Regions from separate parts of the Homo sapiens genome. Here region 1 is linked to region 2. Evidence: fine-mapped expression QTL. Tissue or cell type: thyroid. Region 2 holds a variant in brackets; the other region holds the start of a gene. All regions are shown on one strand. Distances are from middle to middle.

What was found. PIP is the estimated chance that this variant, and not a neighbour inherited with it, causes the effect.
Region 1: it holds the start of PIKFYVE, and the variant in region 2 is fine-mapped to the expression of PIKFYVE in thyroid (GTEx, PIP 0.92).

Annotation. Positions count from the first base shown.
Region 1 is chr2:208,261,286-208,269,392 of GRCh38, forward strand. PIKFYVE (phosphoinositide kinase, FYVE-type zinc finger containing) reads left to right here and starts at 4,970. Exons shown (of 42, transcript NM_015040.4): 1 at 4,970-5,130. It also overlaps the pseudogene MYL6BP1. RefSeq lists an enhancer at 4,807-4,856 and a silencer at 4,987-5,256.
Region 2 is chr2:208,238,764-208,246,870 of GRCh38, forward strand. IDH1 (isocitrate dehydrogenase (NADP(+)) 1) reads right to left here. Exons shown (of 10, transcript NM_005896.4): 5 at 6,556-6,661; 6 at 4,664-4,841; 7 at 3,231-3,382; 8 at 1,100-1,240; 9 at 308-470. Among named protein-coding and RNA genes, the nearest start is that of IDH1, 12 kb to the right of the region's middle. The variant A/C (reference allele first, on the strand shown) is at 4,444.

The DNA of each region.
Region 1 (8,107 bases), 23 kb after region 2:
CAGCCTCCTGAGTAGCTGGGACTACAGGCATGCGCCACCATGCCTGGCTAATTTTTCTATTTTTAGTAGAGATGGGGTTTCAGCATGTTGGCCAGGCTGGTCTCGAACTCCTGACCTCATGATCTGCCCACCTCTGCCTCCCAAAGTGCTGGGATTACAGGCGTGAGCCACCACACCTGGCAGGTTACATGATCTTATACATAAAAAACCCTAAAGACTGCACCAAAAAACTATTAGAATAAACAAATTTAGTAATGTTGTAGGATATAAAATCAGTATACAAAAATGAGTACTGTTTCCAAATATTAACAGTGAACTATCTGAAAGAGAAATCAATAAAACAATCCTATTTGCAATAGCTACAAAAATATATTAAAATACTTAGAAATAAATACGGGCCAGGTGTGGTGGCTCACACCTGTAATCCCAGCACTTTGGGAGGCCAAGGCAGGCGAAGCACGAGGTCAGGGGTTTGAGACCAGCCTGGCCAACATGGTGAAACCCCGTCTCTACTAAAAATACAAAAAAATTAGCTGGGCGTAGTGGTGGGCACCTGTAATCCCAGCTACTCAGGAGGCTGAGGCAGGAGAATTGCTTGAACCTGGGAGGCGGAGGTTGCAGTGAGCCGAGATGGCCCCACTGCACTCCAGCCCGGGTGACACAGTGAGACTCCATCTCAAAAAAAAAAAAAAAAAAAAGAAAGAAATTTAACAGAAGTAAAAGACCCGCACACTGAAACCTATAAAACATTGATGAAAGAAACTGAAGAAGACAGAAATAAATAAAAAGACATCTCATGTTTATGGGTTGAAAGAATTAATATTGTTAAAATGTCCAAAGTGATCCACAGATTCAATGCAATCCCTATAAAAATTCCAATGACTTTTTCGCACAGCTAGAAAAAAAAGTCTAAAATTCCTATGGAATGACAAAAGAGGCTGAATAGCTAAAGAATTCTTGAGCAAAAAGAACAAAGCTAGAAGCATCATACTGCTTGATCTCAAAATACACTACAAAGCTACAGTAATCAGAACAGCATGGTACTGGCAGAGAAACAGACAAACCAACTGAACAGAATAAAGAGTCTATCAGTTAATAGGATGCTCATTTTTAAAAAAAAATAAAAAGTGAAAAAAAGAATAAAGAGTCCAGAAGTAAATTTACCCATTTACAGTCAATTGTTCAATAAGGGGACAAGAATACACTATAGGGAAAGGATATTCTCTTCAATAAGTAGTAATGGGTAAATGGGATATCCATATGCAGGAGAATGAAATTAGAGGCTTATCTCATACCATATATAATAATCAACTCAAATAAATTGAAGACGTTATGTGTACCCCCTGAAACTGTAAAAAACGAGAGGGAAAAGCTCCATGACATTGGTCTGAGTAGTGATTTTTTAGATATGACCCCAAAAGCACAGGCTACAAAAGCCAAATAGACAAATGGGATTACATAAAACTGAGAAGTTTCTACAGAGCAAGGGTTACAATAGACAGACTGAAGAGACAACAGAGAACAGGAGCAAATATTTGCCAGCCATACATCTGATAAAGGGATAATATCCAAAATATATAAGGAACTCAAACAACTCAATAGTAAGAAAGCAAATAATCTGATTATAAAATGGGCAAAGGATGTGAATAGACATTTCTCAAAAGAGGACATACAAATGGCCAACAGGTATATGAAAAAAAGTTCAACGTAATTAATCATCAGACAAATGCAAATTAAAACCACAATGAGAGATATCACTTCACACCTATTACAATGGCTATATCAAAAAGACAAAAGATAACAAGATTGGAGAGAAAATAGAGAAAAGGAAACCCTTGCACACTGTTGGTAGGAATGCAAATTAGTACAGCCATTATGGAAAACAGTATGGAAGTTGCCAAAAAATTTAAAAATAAAACTATCATGTGATCCAGCCATCCCACTACAGGGTATATATCCAAAGGAAATAAAATCACTATTTTTTCTTTTATTGAAATTAAAAAAAATCTTTTTATAGAGATGGGGTCTTGCTATGTTGACCAGGCTGGTGTTGAACTCCTGGCTTCAAGCAATCCTTCCATCTTGGCCTCCCAAAGTGCTAGGATTACAGGCGCGAGCCACCGTGTCCAGCCAAAATCACTATTTTTAAGAGGTATCTGCACTCCCATCTTTATTGCAGCATTATTCACAATAGCCAAGATATGAAATCAACCTAAGTGTCCATCAATGAACAACTGAATAAAGAAAATGTGGGGCTGGGCACTGTGGCTCACGCCGGTAATCCCAGCACTTTGGGAGGCTGAGGCAGGTGGATCACGAGGTCAGGGGTTCAAGACCAGCCTGGCCAAGACAGTGAAACCCCGTCTCTACTAAAAATACAAAAATTAGCCAGGTGCAGTGACAGGCGCCTGTAATCCCAGCTACTCGGGAGGCTGAGGCAGGAGAATAGGGGTGGGGTGGAGGTCGGGGGGGTTGGGGCAGAGGGTGGAGATTGCAGTAAGCCCAGATTGCACCACTGTACTCCAGCCTTGGTGACAGACTCCATGTCAAAAAAATAAAATAAAATGTGGTATATATATACGGTGGAACATTATTCAGCCTTAAAAAATAAGGAAATTCTGTCTTTTGTGACAACATGGATGAACCTGGGGACATTATGTTAAGTGAAATAAACCAGACACAGAAATATACCACAAGATCTCATATATATGGAATTTAAAAATGTTGAACTCATAGAAGTAGTGGGTAGAATGGTGGTTGCCAGGGGTAAGGGGTGGCGGAGAGAGAAAAAGAACAAAAAGTAAGATGTGCTCAAAAGGTAATGGAGGCATGTCAAATGGACTCAGGAGTCTGCTGGAAGGGGCTCACACCAGCCAAGGCGGGGACACCTGGAGCACAGAAATGAATAGTGGCAGTAATGAACTATAACATGTTGGAAAAAAATGAGTCCAAAGTCATACTAACCAATATAAAGAAAGAAAGAAAAAGATGGAACGCTATTAGTTGCAGTAAAATTCAACTAATACATACAGAGGAATAGAAGTATAATATCATCGAACAATAATTGATTCAGCAAGAATCCTAAATCTGTGCTTGAATGAAAGTTTTTGAGGAGGATATATACACAGACAAATAATCTCTCTACAGATAAAATTCATCTGGAATTAATTTTGGATGTCTAGTGTGAAGTGAGAATCTAAAATGATTTCTTTTGCAAAAACAGTAGCCCAGTTTTCAATCTCTTTTCCACAGAAATTAAACTGTAAGCTAATATAGATATTAGACGGTAAGCTTCTTGAGGACATGGACTGTGTAATGTTCACATATATTTTTATTTTTTAGGCTAGTCAAGTGAAGCAGTGGGATACGTTCATAATTCTATCCTTAGTGTAGTGCTTCTATAACTAACACACTGCAGGTTAAATTAGGGACTCAAAAATATTTGCGGAGTGCACTTTTTTTTTTTTTTTTTAAACCATAGATGGAGTTTCTACATACACTGCAGTCGTCGTGGCTGGGCAATTTATTCTTTTCATATGATCTCTGTACCTATTTCATACTTTATTGTAGGTTTATGAAATATTAACATAGGGTGATAATTACGAGGGCCTTTTTTGCTTATCTTAAATTTTTAAAAAAAATTTTTTTAAAGGAAGGCAGAGACTTGAGCATCTTTATGGGCTGAGGAGGCAGAGTCATTGGAAAAGGGGAGGTTGCAGATACGGTGCAAGCTCCCAGACAGGAGAGGGTGAATTGGGGGCCAAAAGGATTGAGCTGGGGAAGAAGAGGCCCCTTCCTCAGAGAGATGAGGGAGAAAGGCAGACCAGGGCAGATGTGGATGTAGGTAAATGTTGTGGTGTGTGGGGAATTAGCTTGTTAAGGGTCACGCCCAGATACCTTGGGATTTTTCACGTGGGTATAAAATATGATTCTCTGATGAGAATGATGGTCAAGGTAATGTGGGGGTCGTGGTGGTGGTCTGACGCAGCAGTAATAAGGAATGGGAGAAGCTGACTACAGACTCCCAGAAAGATTGCTGAAGGGCCCAGCTGAGGATGGTGACTGGGATTTGCACTGGACTCAACCTGCAGGTTTCGATGGTGCTTTCCAACTCCAGGAAAACTGGGCTGGGATTTGACAAAACTCTTGAGGAAAAGGACTCACAGAATTTAAAACTGCATTTCCCTTTAGGTTTCGTCTGCTTTCCATCCTCCCCTACCAAGCCCCACAACTGCGGCGAGCATGTTTTCTGCAGTTAACTGCACTGCGCTCTCAGCAGGACAGAAATGACGAATAACTCTAGCCAAGCTGAACAAGATAGGGCTTGGGCTTGGTAACTTTATTTGCATCAGCATTTGCAACACAACACCTAAATGAAAAAATTAACTATAAAGCCGACATCACTTACTCTGGGTCAGGGAACTGTGCCATTCGCTTTAAGTGCATTTACTTAATCTCAAAAAAGTATTAAGAAGTGAGTCCTTTTATTAATCCGACTTTACACACCAGAGGTCTAAGGCCTAAATAAATGAGCAATTTGCTTAAGATCATATGGCTGGTTATTGGTGGAGTCATGCAAGTCTGGAAACAGAGTCATCGCTAACTCCGGTTCAGTGCTACACGAGTGAACTGTCTACAACAAAGCAATAACATATTATGAGTGCCCACAGTATCGAACACATACGGTAACCGCAGTCCAGCCAGCACCCCTGCAGTGCCCAGAGCACCAAGCACCCATCCGTTGACCCCGCATGCGTGACGCTCACGCGCGCAGTCCCCCTGGCTTCTTCCAGGAAGGCTGAAGCGGCCTAATCTCGGCCAAAAGATCAGGACGACTCGATCTGGGCTGGACTCCTTCTGCCTGAGCATCTGATCCGAGCGTCGGCCGGGCTGGGAGGAGCCGGCCCCCGGGAAAGATTTCGGACTGGGGGACAGGAAAACAGAGGGCGGAGTCTTGGGGGGGGGAAGCGAGAAGCCGCATCAACCATGTAAGCAGCTTCGCTTCCTGCCGCAACCGTCCGCGGCCTGAGGAGCCCACCGCCGCTCTCGGGGGCCGACTTCCGGGGGCTGAGCCGTTGAAGCGGAGGCTGGGGCGGGGGGCAGCCGGCGCGGCCGGGGCAGGAGGCGCAGGTAAGGGAGGGGGCCTGGAGCTTGGCCGGCTGGGGCTCAGCATGGGAAGGAGGCCGGTATGGGGAGCTCCAGGGCCAGAGCTGAGGTGAAAGTGAGAACCAGGGCTCCGCAGTCGGGGGCTAGGGCCTGGCTGCCGGCTGAGCAAGGAAGGGCAGAGAATCTGGCTTTAGAATTAGCTTGTCCTCCCTATTCCCCGGCTGCCTTGTCTGGCGAGTGGGGACGGAAGCCGGGTGGGGCCCTTGAGATTTCCTTGGAAACATTTGAAGTTCCTTTGCCTCTCTCTCGACCCTTACGCCTGAACTTAATTAGGAGGGGAAGAGTACAGTTACTTTTCCCTCTGAGTGCATGAGTTCTGAGTTTGTCAGAGGCGCATCCGTAGGCTGGAAAAGAAAGTTCATGAGCTGCAGAAACGATACCAACCGTGGGGGTTCAAATAAGTGTTTGTCTTTTTAAATGCTTGCCTCTGCTATTTGAGACGATTCCATTTCAACTTAGGTTTTGGAGTTTCTTGAGGAGGAGCATTATTTCCCAATTAGTGTTTACCCTTTGCTTAGAATGTTCCCAACAAAAGGATGAGAATGGAATGTGTTGGAAACTTTTAGGACTTAGGGGTTTTCTGCCCAATCAGAGGTTATTCCTAAGACAGTCAAGAAATATAAGAAGTGCTAGAATTCTGTATAAAGCAAGTTATTCGTGTGTATCTGATGTGTATACATGATTCATTATCTACTATTGACGCAGTGCATCCTGTGTTGTAAAATATGTCCAGTGTTGACAATAGAGGTAGTCGCTTGGTATAATGTACTTATTTCTGATTTATTTGAGCCCCTTTTTTGGCACTCCAAAACTCCCACTCTGTCAGTTTTCTTACAAAAAATGTTCTTTCTTTTGTGTTTGTGACAAAGATTGTGTAGGTTAAATCTCTTCTGTGGAGCAAGGCTAATTTCCTGTGTTCTCCCTTTTTCTGCTTTCTGGATCCTGCTCTGGTTTTCCTTTAAGCGTGTTGGTCAAAAATTGAACAAGAAATCTTTGTTGATAGAAGCTAACATTTCCAATATTCAGCTTTCCTAAATTATTACATTGCCAGTTTTTTTTTTTTTTTTTTTTGAGAGACAGAGTCTCGCTCTGTCCCCCAGGTTGGAGTGCAGTGGCGCGATCTCCTCCGACTGCAACCTCCGCCTCCCAGGGTTCAGGCGATTCTCCTGCCTCAGCCTCCTGAGTAGCTAGATTGCAGGCGCGCGACACCACACTCGGCTAATTTTTGTATTTTTAGGGGAGACGGGGTTTCACCATGTTAGCGAAGCTGGTTTTGAATTCCTGACCTCAGGCGATTCACCCGCCTCGGCCTCCCAAGGTGCTGGGATTACAGGCGTGAGCCACCGGGCGGGGGTCTCCCTCCCTCGCCCAGGCTGGAGTGAAGTGGTGTGATCTCGGCTTACTGCAGTCTCCGCCTCCCAGGCTCAAGGGATTCTCCTGCCTCGGCCTCCCAAAGTGCTGGGATCACAGGTGTGAGCAGCCACGTCCGGCCTTTACTGACTGGCTTCTGATAGTTTGTAGTAGGTCTGCATATATTAGTAGCCTTAATTAGAAATGGTGAAGTATTGGTGATATATCAGAAGGCTTTGGGTAGGTAGGTTAATAGGACTGATTACCACTCAGGAAAGAGTCCTAATTTATATTTTAAAGCGTTGTTAAGCTGCTAAAGAGTGAGAGTTATAAGATAATTTTTTCAGGGCCCTAGTGTCATTATGTAATTATTAGGGTTAACTATATGATTGGGTTTATATTTCAGAGACTACACTTGCTAAGTGTTTTCATGGGAATTTTTATCTTCTTATTTCCAAAGCCGAGTATAATTTTTGTGTAGATAACCTTTAGAAGTAATTCTAAGACTCTTTAGGCAGAATGTCATCTCTGCCTCTGACATTACTTGTGTCAAAGTAGAATGTAGGCTGTTTTCCAGGGGTGGTTGTTACGGCCATCACATTATCGTTTCTCTCCAGAGCTCTTTTTTTTTTTTTTTTTTTTTTCCCTAAATAAAATAGAGATGAAGTCTCGCTATGTTGACTAGGCTGGTCTGGAACTCCTGGCCTCAAGCGATCCTCCCGTCTCAGCCTCCTAAAGTGCTGGGATTACAGACATGAGGCCACAGTGCCTGGCCTCTTTTTTTTTTTAATATAAAAAAAACACAAACTTTTTTTTGAGTGTATACTTATTCAGTTATCAGCTTACTTCCCAACACTTTTTGCTGAATTGTCATGACACTTCAGAAGGATTGTTGATGATTATTCTCAGTGGAAGATATTAGAAACCTTCCTTCCCCTTCTTCTTCCTTTTCTCCTTCCTCTTTCCTTCCCCTTCCTCTTCCTCTTTTTCTTCCCCCCCCAATAAACATGTATTGCCAAAATTCTGTTTAAGTCAGTGGTTTCATTTCTGCCTTAATTTATTAATTAAATTATTGATCAGACAAAGCCTTAAGTAGTTAGAGAACGCGGATAGGCTAAAAGGGAAGTGTGAAGAGCTACAAAAGTAATTTTGATTTAGGTAATACTTTTGGGGTGAGACTTGGGGTATAGTGACAGTTCTACTAATGTCTGTGTGACCCCCAAGAAAGTTGTTTTAGGTTCAGAGTACCTTGGTTGCCTCAAAGGTAAAATGTCATAAAGCCAGCTGTGTGTGCCTTCCAGGATTGTAAGAGTAAAATGAGATGGTAGCTATGATTTTGAATGTGAAAAGCATTTTACCGAGACTGTAATGTCCTCTTTGTAAAGTGGAGACTAGATTATAAACTATAGTATATATATTGTTTTCTCCAAGGGAGGAACCTTGTCTTTATTTTGAAACAGTAGGTAGCCTCCTGGTGGCTGGAACATGCTTCTGCCTGCAGGGGGCCCATTGTCTGGGCCCTAGGGATCTACAGAGCTCAGTAGGCTTAGGAAGTGTTTCAGGAAGGCCTCCTAGTTGATGCTGTCCTCAT
Region 2 (8,107 bases):
CCAAATCGAGGCTGGTTTTGAACATAAAAGTTTGATTGGTACCAGCCACACCATTTGATTCTGTATTGTCTATGACTGCTTTCCTGCTACAATGGCAGAGGCAAAGTTGAATAGTTGTGTAGTTGCAAAAAGACTATATGTTCCACAAAGCCTAAAATGTTCACTATCTGACAATTTACAGATATCTGCTGACTCCTGAACTAGATGATGAATAACAATTTATATAATTCCAGAAAGCACCGATGCTCTGAGCCCAGTGAGGATAAGTGTTAATTTGACCATAGAAACTAGGGCATCTTATACTTACTTGGGTAAACCTTTAATGCAAGCAGCCAAGTCCTTGGTCATGAAGCCAGCCTCAATTGTCTCAATAGAGACTTCTTCCAAAGCATTTGCAAAGAAGGCAAGCTCTTTATTGTTATCAAGCTTTGCTCTGTGGGCTAACCCTCTGGTCCAGGCAAAAATGGAAGCTAAAAGAGGGGAAAAAAAACACAACACTCCAATCATCCTAGTTATAGAGGTTTCCAAATGTCTCATAGTTCCCCAAAACAGAATAGTTTTTTGTTTAGGTGACAGACTTCTTTAGATACTAACCACATGGGCTAGAAGTTTTAGGAGAGTTAGAAATATTTTACCAAACAGAAACTTTAAAAAAACACATTTTCATGGCATGGTACTAGTGTTTGAAACTTAAGGCATTTTCTAATTTGAAAAAGGTCACAATCTCTTCTATCTCTTGTCTATATTGGTCTCCTTTTTCCAGGCTGTAATCTCTTTTTGAAGTGCTATCTTTGAAACTTGTTAAAAGGATCTATCCATGTGACTTTTAGATTTGTAGCCTTATGTGACATTTCACTGCACCAGAGGTAAAGGAAAATGCTTGTTGATAACATTCCTCTCTGTAACCTATGTTCTCCCACAAAACAGAAAAGCAAATATTGTATATTTTAAGAAGCATATTCAAATAGATCTTACTAGTAGAACAAATCAGCTACTTGGTGATGACTTTGCACACAAAACACTGAGCAGCCAAGGGAACACATCTGGGCTGCTTTGGAGAGCACTCTCTGGTGAGAAATCAATGTAAACACCATCTTACCAATGGGATTGGTGGACGTCTCCTGTCCTTTCTGGTACATGCGGTAGTGACGGGTTACAGTCCCGTGGGCAGCCTCTGCTTCTACTGTCTTGCCATCTGGACAAACCAGCACGCTGGTCATCATGCCGAGAGAGCCATACCCTGTAAGTAGTGGAGCATGAAGCGTTGGGTCCAACTGCATGAAGAGCACTGAGTCTCTCAGAGATGAGAGCATAAATGACTCAATCTTGATAGGTCTTGGTAAGCAAAGTAAACAAGAGCACATGGAATCACCAATAATTCTGCCTTTCAGAAGGCAGGATCCCCGCTCCAGATATCAGAGCCAATGGGTCTGGAAAGGCTGCATTTTCCCCTCACTTATTTCAGGGATACCTACTCCTTGATGGAGGGTTCAGGGTCCAACTGCCTACATTCCACTCTAGTTCTATGACTTCATAGCTACTGCGGCTCAGTTTTCTTATCTGTAAAATGGGAGTAATAACAGCACCTACTTCACTAGGTTGCTGTGGGATTAGATAAATATACATATATTCATAAATATATATGAATATATATTTATATTCCTTAGAATAGTACTGGACACAGAGCTCAATCTATTATTGTTATTCTTATGTGCAATGCTCTGCTGTTCTGGGGAAATAAAGATGGACGAGAGCTGTCTCTTAAGAACCCTCAAGCTGCTCATACACTTGCTGGGACTGGGAAGAGAAGGCAGGTAAACACAGGATCGGTTGGATCTAAGAACATCCCAGTTGCCCTTCCTCGCTCTCTTTCATACCCTCAGTACAACAGTTCTCTTCTGTGGTTTCTTATTGAAAGAACCACATTACAACTCTTATATCTATATAATTGATTTTCTTCTTTTCTCCATTTTTGCTACCTCCCAACATCACCTGTGAAGTTAATAATCAACCACGGAGTCATCACAAAGCAATAACACTCCTTCCTCTGTTGCATTCAGTACAAATGATTGTGAGGATGTAGAGAAACAGAAGGATGGTAAGGAGAGTTGTGTAACTCATTTATCTGGCAAAAAGTTATCTTTAACCAGGTTGATCTACTGATTTTCAAACTGAGAGGAGATGTTTAACACTGATAAGAGACAGAAAAAGTAGTACTTCTTGGGAAAAACAAACATAATTAAAGTTAACAAACATTCATCTGGGGAGATTCAAGTTCATACAGCTACCAAGGGCAACTGAAACTGAAGGGCAACTTGGTGCTGAGGAAACCAGGCGCTGTGTTTCTGTTGATTTGGCCCTTACCCCATGCATGAAACTTCTCCTGGAATTTCTGTAAACAGCCCCTAGGGTTCTTTGCTCAATTGATTTGTGTGTAAGCTAAGCAGTAAACAAAAACACTTTTTCTTTGTTGTTGTTGAGACAAGAGTCTTGCTCTGTTGCCCAGGCTGGAGTATAGTGGCGTGATCTCAGCTCACTGCAACCTCCGCTTCCCAGGCTCAAGAAATTCTCATGCTTTAGCCTCCTGAGTGCCAGGGACTATAGGCATGCGACCACACCTGGCTAATTTTTTTTTTTTTTTTTTTTTGAAGTAGAGATGGGGTTTTGCTATGTTGGCCAGGCTGGTCTTGAACTCCTGGCCTCAAGTGATCCACTGCCTTGGCCTCTCAAAGTGCTAGGATTACAGGCGTGAGCCACTGTGCCCAGCCAAACACATTTGTTTTATATTCTACCAGAACAGCAGCTGGCAGAGGGACATGAGTAGGTCCTGCTGCCCAATAAATGAGCTTTGCAGGCACCAAAGCTTGGTTATGACATGATCAAGCTCCTCACTTTATCCCTCCTTGCCTGAGTGCCCTGGTTTTTTACATTTTCACCAAAGGACAAGGAGGGCAGGGAAAGGGAGTGATTTTCAGATCAGGTAGGCTTTAAAACTTCAAGGAGTGACACTGGAGCCAGGAGTGTCAATCCACTAATTTACTTCCCATGTGGTCTTGAGTAAATCATTTCTCTAGTCTGAGCTTAATTTCCTTAGCTGTCAGGTAAGACGGTGGACCTGGAGGTTTAACATTCCAAGATTTTACAACAAAGGACTACAAAACTCCCCTTCCCAAATTAGAGAACTACCCTGGAATGACCCTGTTCCTACAGGCCAGGCTCCACCTCTGTACCTTGGGCCACAGAGTCCGACTGCACGTCACCATCATAGTTTTTACAGGCCCAGATGAAGCCTCCCTCTGATTTCATAGCTTGGGCCACCATGTCGTCGATGAGCCTATGCTCATACCAGATCTTTTGAGCTTCAAACTGGGACTTGTACTGCCTGGGAAACAAAAGGTAAAAGAGAATAATAATAAAGAAAATTGATTTTGTTAGGGATATCATCTGCTTGTCCCAAACAGAAGACCGGACACACAAGAAGCAGCATATTTTAGTAGAAGTAGCAGAAACTCAGGAATCTGACAGACATTGGCTCAAATCCTAGCCCAATCATTTTCTAACTGTAAAACTCAATTTGACTATCTGTAGGAACAATTTTACCCACCTTGCAGGGAAGCCGTGAGAATTAAGTGAGACAGTAGAGTATCCCAATGACTACTTCACTTTTCAGTTTTCATTATACTATAGATCAGATTCTTGAGATTCAGCTTATTTTTAAAATACATTTTTGAAAAGACTGTTCTACTTCTTGGTGTCATTCAGGAAACTAAAATATATTCCAGACAGTTTCTGGGCTTGGTATAGATGGGCAGCAGGAGGAGGAATCAAAATGCCTCAGGAACATTTTGGCCTGAACACTTGCACCTAAAGGGAGTTATGCCAATCTTAAATATTAACACATGCTCACCTCCTGTGCTGTGGAAGCCAGTGTTGTTATAAACTTAGACTTAAGTTCAAATGACTCCACTAAAACAGAATTTTAAATTCTTTTTTTTCTTTTCTTTTCTTTTTTTTTTTTTGAGACGGAGTCTCGCTCTGTCGCCCAGGCTGCAGTGCAGTGGCGTGATTTCGGCTCACTGCAACCTCCGCCTCCCGGGTTCACGCCATTCTCCTGCCTCAGCCTCCCCAGTAACTGGGACTAGAGGCGCCCGCCACCACGCCCGGCTAATTTTTGGTATTTTTAGTAGAGTCAGGGTTTCACCGTGTTAGCCAGGATGGTCTCGATCTCCTGACCTCGTGATCCGCCCGCCTCGGCCTCCCAAAGTGCTGGGATTACAGGCATGAGCCACCGTGCCTGGCCAACAGAATTTTAAATTCTAACAATGGGCTTCAGAAAGAATGGAAATGGGTCTGACTTAGAAACTCACACATGAAAAATTAGAACTTATCACTAACAGCGTACGTTTATTTAAACATTAAAGAACCTGGCTCTGAAAACAATTC[A/C]TGTGGGGACCTTATTTAAGAACATGTTTATCTTATAAAAGCAAGTCAGAGTGGTTTTGTTTCACTCCTGCTAAACCTCAGTTTTGCCCTTATCTTTAAGAGACAGTGATGATTTTCACTCAATTTACCCAGAATCATAGGGATAGGGAGATACATACTCTATATGCAAATGTCAGCTTACTTGAGAATAAAGAAAAAGTTAAAAAAGAACTATAGTTACTTGTCATATATCTCCTGAAAGATGTCTTTAAAACGCCCATCATATTTCTTCAGAATAGTGTTTTTGGTGCTCAGATACAAAGGCCAACCCTTAGACAGAGCCATTTGGAAGGAACTGTGTGCAAAATCTTCAATTGACTTATCTTGATTATACATCCCCATGGCAACACCACCACCTTCTGTAGAGGAGAAGCCAGTGAGAGGAAAAAAGGGAGAAGAATAAATGTAATGTAGTTGTAATAAGGCTAAAATCACCCACCACAACCAAATGACCTACTTCTCAGCTCTCACATCTGAGACTAGATTTCAGAAGTCCCAGACAGGTTTCCAACAAATTTCTGAGGCACATAATGAGAGAAAAGCCAGTTCTAGATAAGGACATTCTAACTTGTTTTGGAAGGACAGCAGAAATGAAAAAACATACAGTCTTTAAAATCCTGAAGATGCAGAAATGCCAAAAACTGATATGAACCAGAAATACATTTAAGAAAAGGCAAATAATTTTGAAACTTCTTTTACATACTGATATGGTTTGGATATTTGTCCCTTCCAAATCTCATGTTGAAATGTGATTCCCAGTGTTGGAGGTGGGGCCCAGTGGGAGGAGATTGGAACATGGGGTTGGATCCCTTATGAATGGCTTAGGACCATCCCCTTTGGTGATTACGTGAGTTCTCGCTCAGTTAATTCACTTGAAATCTGGTTGTTTAAGAGTCTGGGACCTCCCCCTTCTCTTTCTCTTGTTCCCGCTCTTGCCATGTGATACACCTATTGTCTGTTTGCCTTCTGCCAAGATTGGAAGCTTCCTGAGGCCCTCACCAGGAACAGGTGTTGGAGCCAGGCTTGTACAGCCTGCAGAACCATGAGCCAATTAAACCTCTTTTCTTTATAACTTACGCAGCCTCAGGTATTTCTTTATAGCAACGCAAGAATGGACAAACACCCTACCTTTACAATTCCCAACATCTATTTTAAACTTTAGGGGTGTACTCAATCCTCAGTTATTGAGAAAAACTTAAATTTCAAATACTGAATGAAAATTCTTATAATCTCCTGGAGGATACTGAGCACTCCTACTGTAGTTGGTAGAAATAAGTAGAAATAATTATGCTACATGTAATCACTGTGTTTTACAACTATTATTGAACTTTGTTATTACTTAAAGATAGAACTTGAATCCATGCCAATGCTCAGGGTTAACTTGGGTTCAGGGTGAAAGGTGCTGAAGCCTGCAGAACCAGATTCCAACAGATATTATTTGGAAGAGGCAAGAAAAACAAAAGGTAGGTGAGTGTTGGGTATTTTTGTTTGTGTGAGTGCTTTCAACAACTTCAATAGTGAAGGAAAAGGGCCCACTAATTATTTCAACAACTTTTGGGTGGGATTTGCCATCAAAGGTAGCAGGGTAGCTGGGAAAGAAAAGGCAAAAAGCAAATGTTCTACTTTTTCACAGGATAAATACCCAGAAGGGCAAGAAGAAAACTTCAGCAAATATATAAGGAAACCTCTTCCAGATACAAGAGCCCTACCAGAGCAAAGGGCAGGATTATATGCTGGGTGATTTGAGAATATTAATATTTAATGTATATAATTCATGCACAGCAGATTTCTGCCAACCTTCTCTCTGTGCTTTAAGATAAATGCATAATCATCTCCTTGTCTTTGCCTAAAGGCATTTCCAATTAAGTGGGTAACCCTTTTGTGCCTTTATTCATGCCACAGGAAGGTATGGAAGCAAATTACTTCTTTATGTCAAGTTTCGGGTTTTGCAAAAACACTGTAGATTCAGATTATATTTTTAGGCAGTCACATAACTAACAAAAAAAGCAATAAAAATATTATCTAAATCATTTGTTTAAAAAAAAAAGAAGCTTATGCTACAGTCATACATACCTTCAAAGTTATGTACCAGGTATGTCACCTTTTGGGTTCCGTCACTTGGTGTGTAGGTTATCTCTACTTTTCCAGGCCCAGGAACAACAAAATCAGTTGCTCTGTACTGTGTAGAGGGGAAAAAGGTATAAAGAAAAAAAAAATACCCTAGCAGGAATTGTAAGGAGAATATTCATATAATATAGACCTAGAAGACACCTAGACAAATAGGGCAGTATGTCAAACTTCTTTTTTTTTTTTTTTTTTTAGGAGATGGGGATGAAGAGGTCCAGACATTCCCCTAAATCAGTAAATATTTATTAGGTGCCTATACGAGGTATAGGAAAGTTTTCTGAGCACTGATTTGAAGAGGACAGAGAATAACATAAGCCACTTTCCTTTAGGAAGTTTACAACCCTATAAAGACATATATAAGTGAAAAGCAATATAAGAGCTTTCAAATGCCAAAAGAGGGTATTAGACCCCCCCCCCAAAAAAAAAAAAACTATAGGATGACAGAGGAAAAGAGGTGACCATGGAAGGAAGTCAGGGAAGTCTCCCTAGAGGGTGATGATAACAATACTAATTGTAGTACTGAGGTAGCTAATGCTTTGTCCTTACTCTATGCCAGATGCTTTAAATGCTTAACTTGCATAATCTCATTTGATTCTTACATCAGTCTTACAAGGAGGGAACTATGATATAGTAGAAATAATGCATCCAGGGTCAAAGGACTTGAGGTCTCGTCCTTACTTAGGCCATCGGGGCTCGGTCTCTCATGGTATCATTGTTACTAGTGTTATAGGACTTGTTCATATGGAGCAATCAAATCATTCTGGGAGCAGCTACAATGGGATGATGATGATTTTTAGGAAAGGGCTGTTCAAGGACAGGCACCTCCCTCATGGGCCTCAGCTACTCAGTGGAATAATATGCCTGGCATATACTAGACATCCATAAGTCTTTGCTGCATTGTATCTTCTTCAATGAATTGAATCAGATACTTGCAGAGTTAGGTACCAGCAGGTGCCGGCCACATCTATAAGTGTAGAGAAATACTAATAACAACTGGTAAAAGAGCAGTAAGTAACAATAAAGATTAAACACCTACTTTACACAGAACATTTTTGACATATAAAATCCATAAAGTAAATATGGGTGGTAATTTATTACTATTTCTGAAAAGGGAGAAACTGAGGTACCAAAGCACCATAAATGCTTTGTATAGGTTTATGTATATTTAAACAGTCCATGAATCAACCTGAGGTTTGAAATTCTCTTTCTGGACTTTAATAAATAGAATGGCCATTTTTACAAATGACTGATGCCAAAATAATTAAAAAAAAAAAAAAAAAGAGGAAGGCCGGGCATGGTGGCATGCCTGTAATCCCAGCACTTTGGGAGGCGGAGGCGGAGGCGGGCGGATCACAAGGTCAGGAGTTTGAGACCAGCCTGACCAACATGGTGAAACCCCGTCTCTACTAAAAACACAAAAATTAGCCGGGCATGGTAGCATGTGCCTGTAATCCCAGCTACTCAAGAGGCTGAGGCAGGAGAATTGCTTGAACCCGGG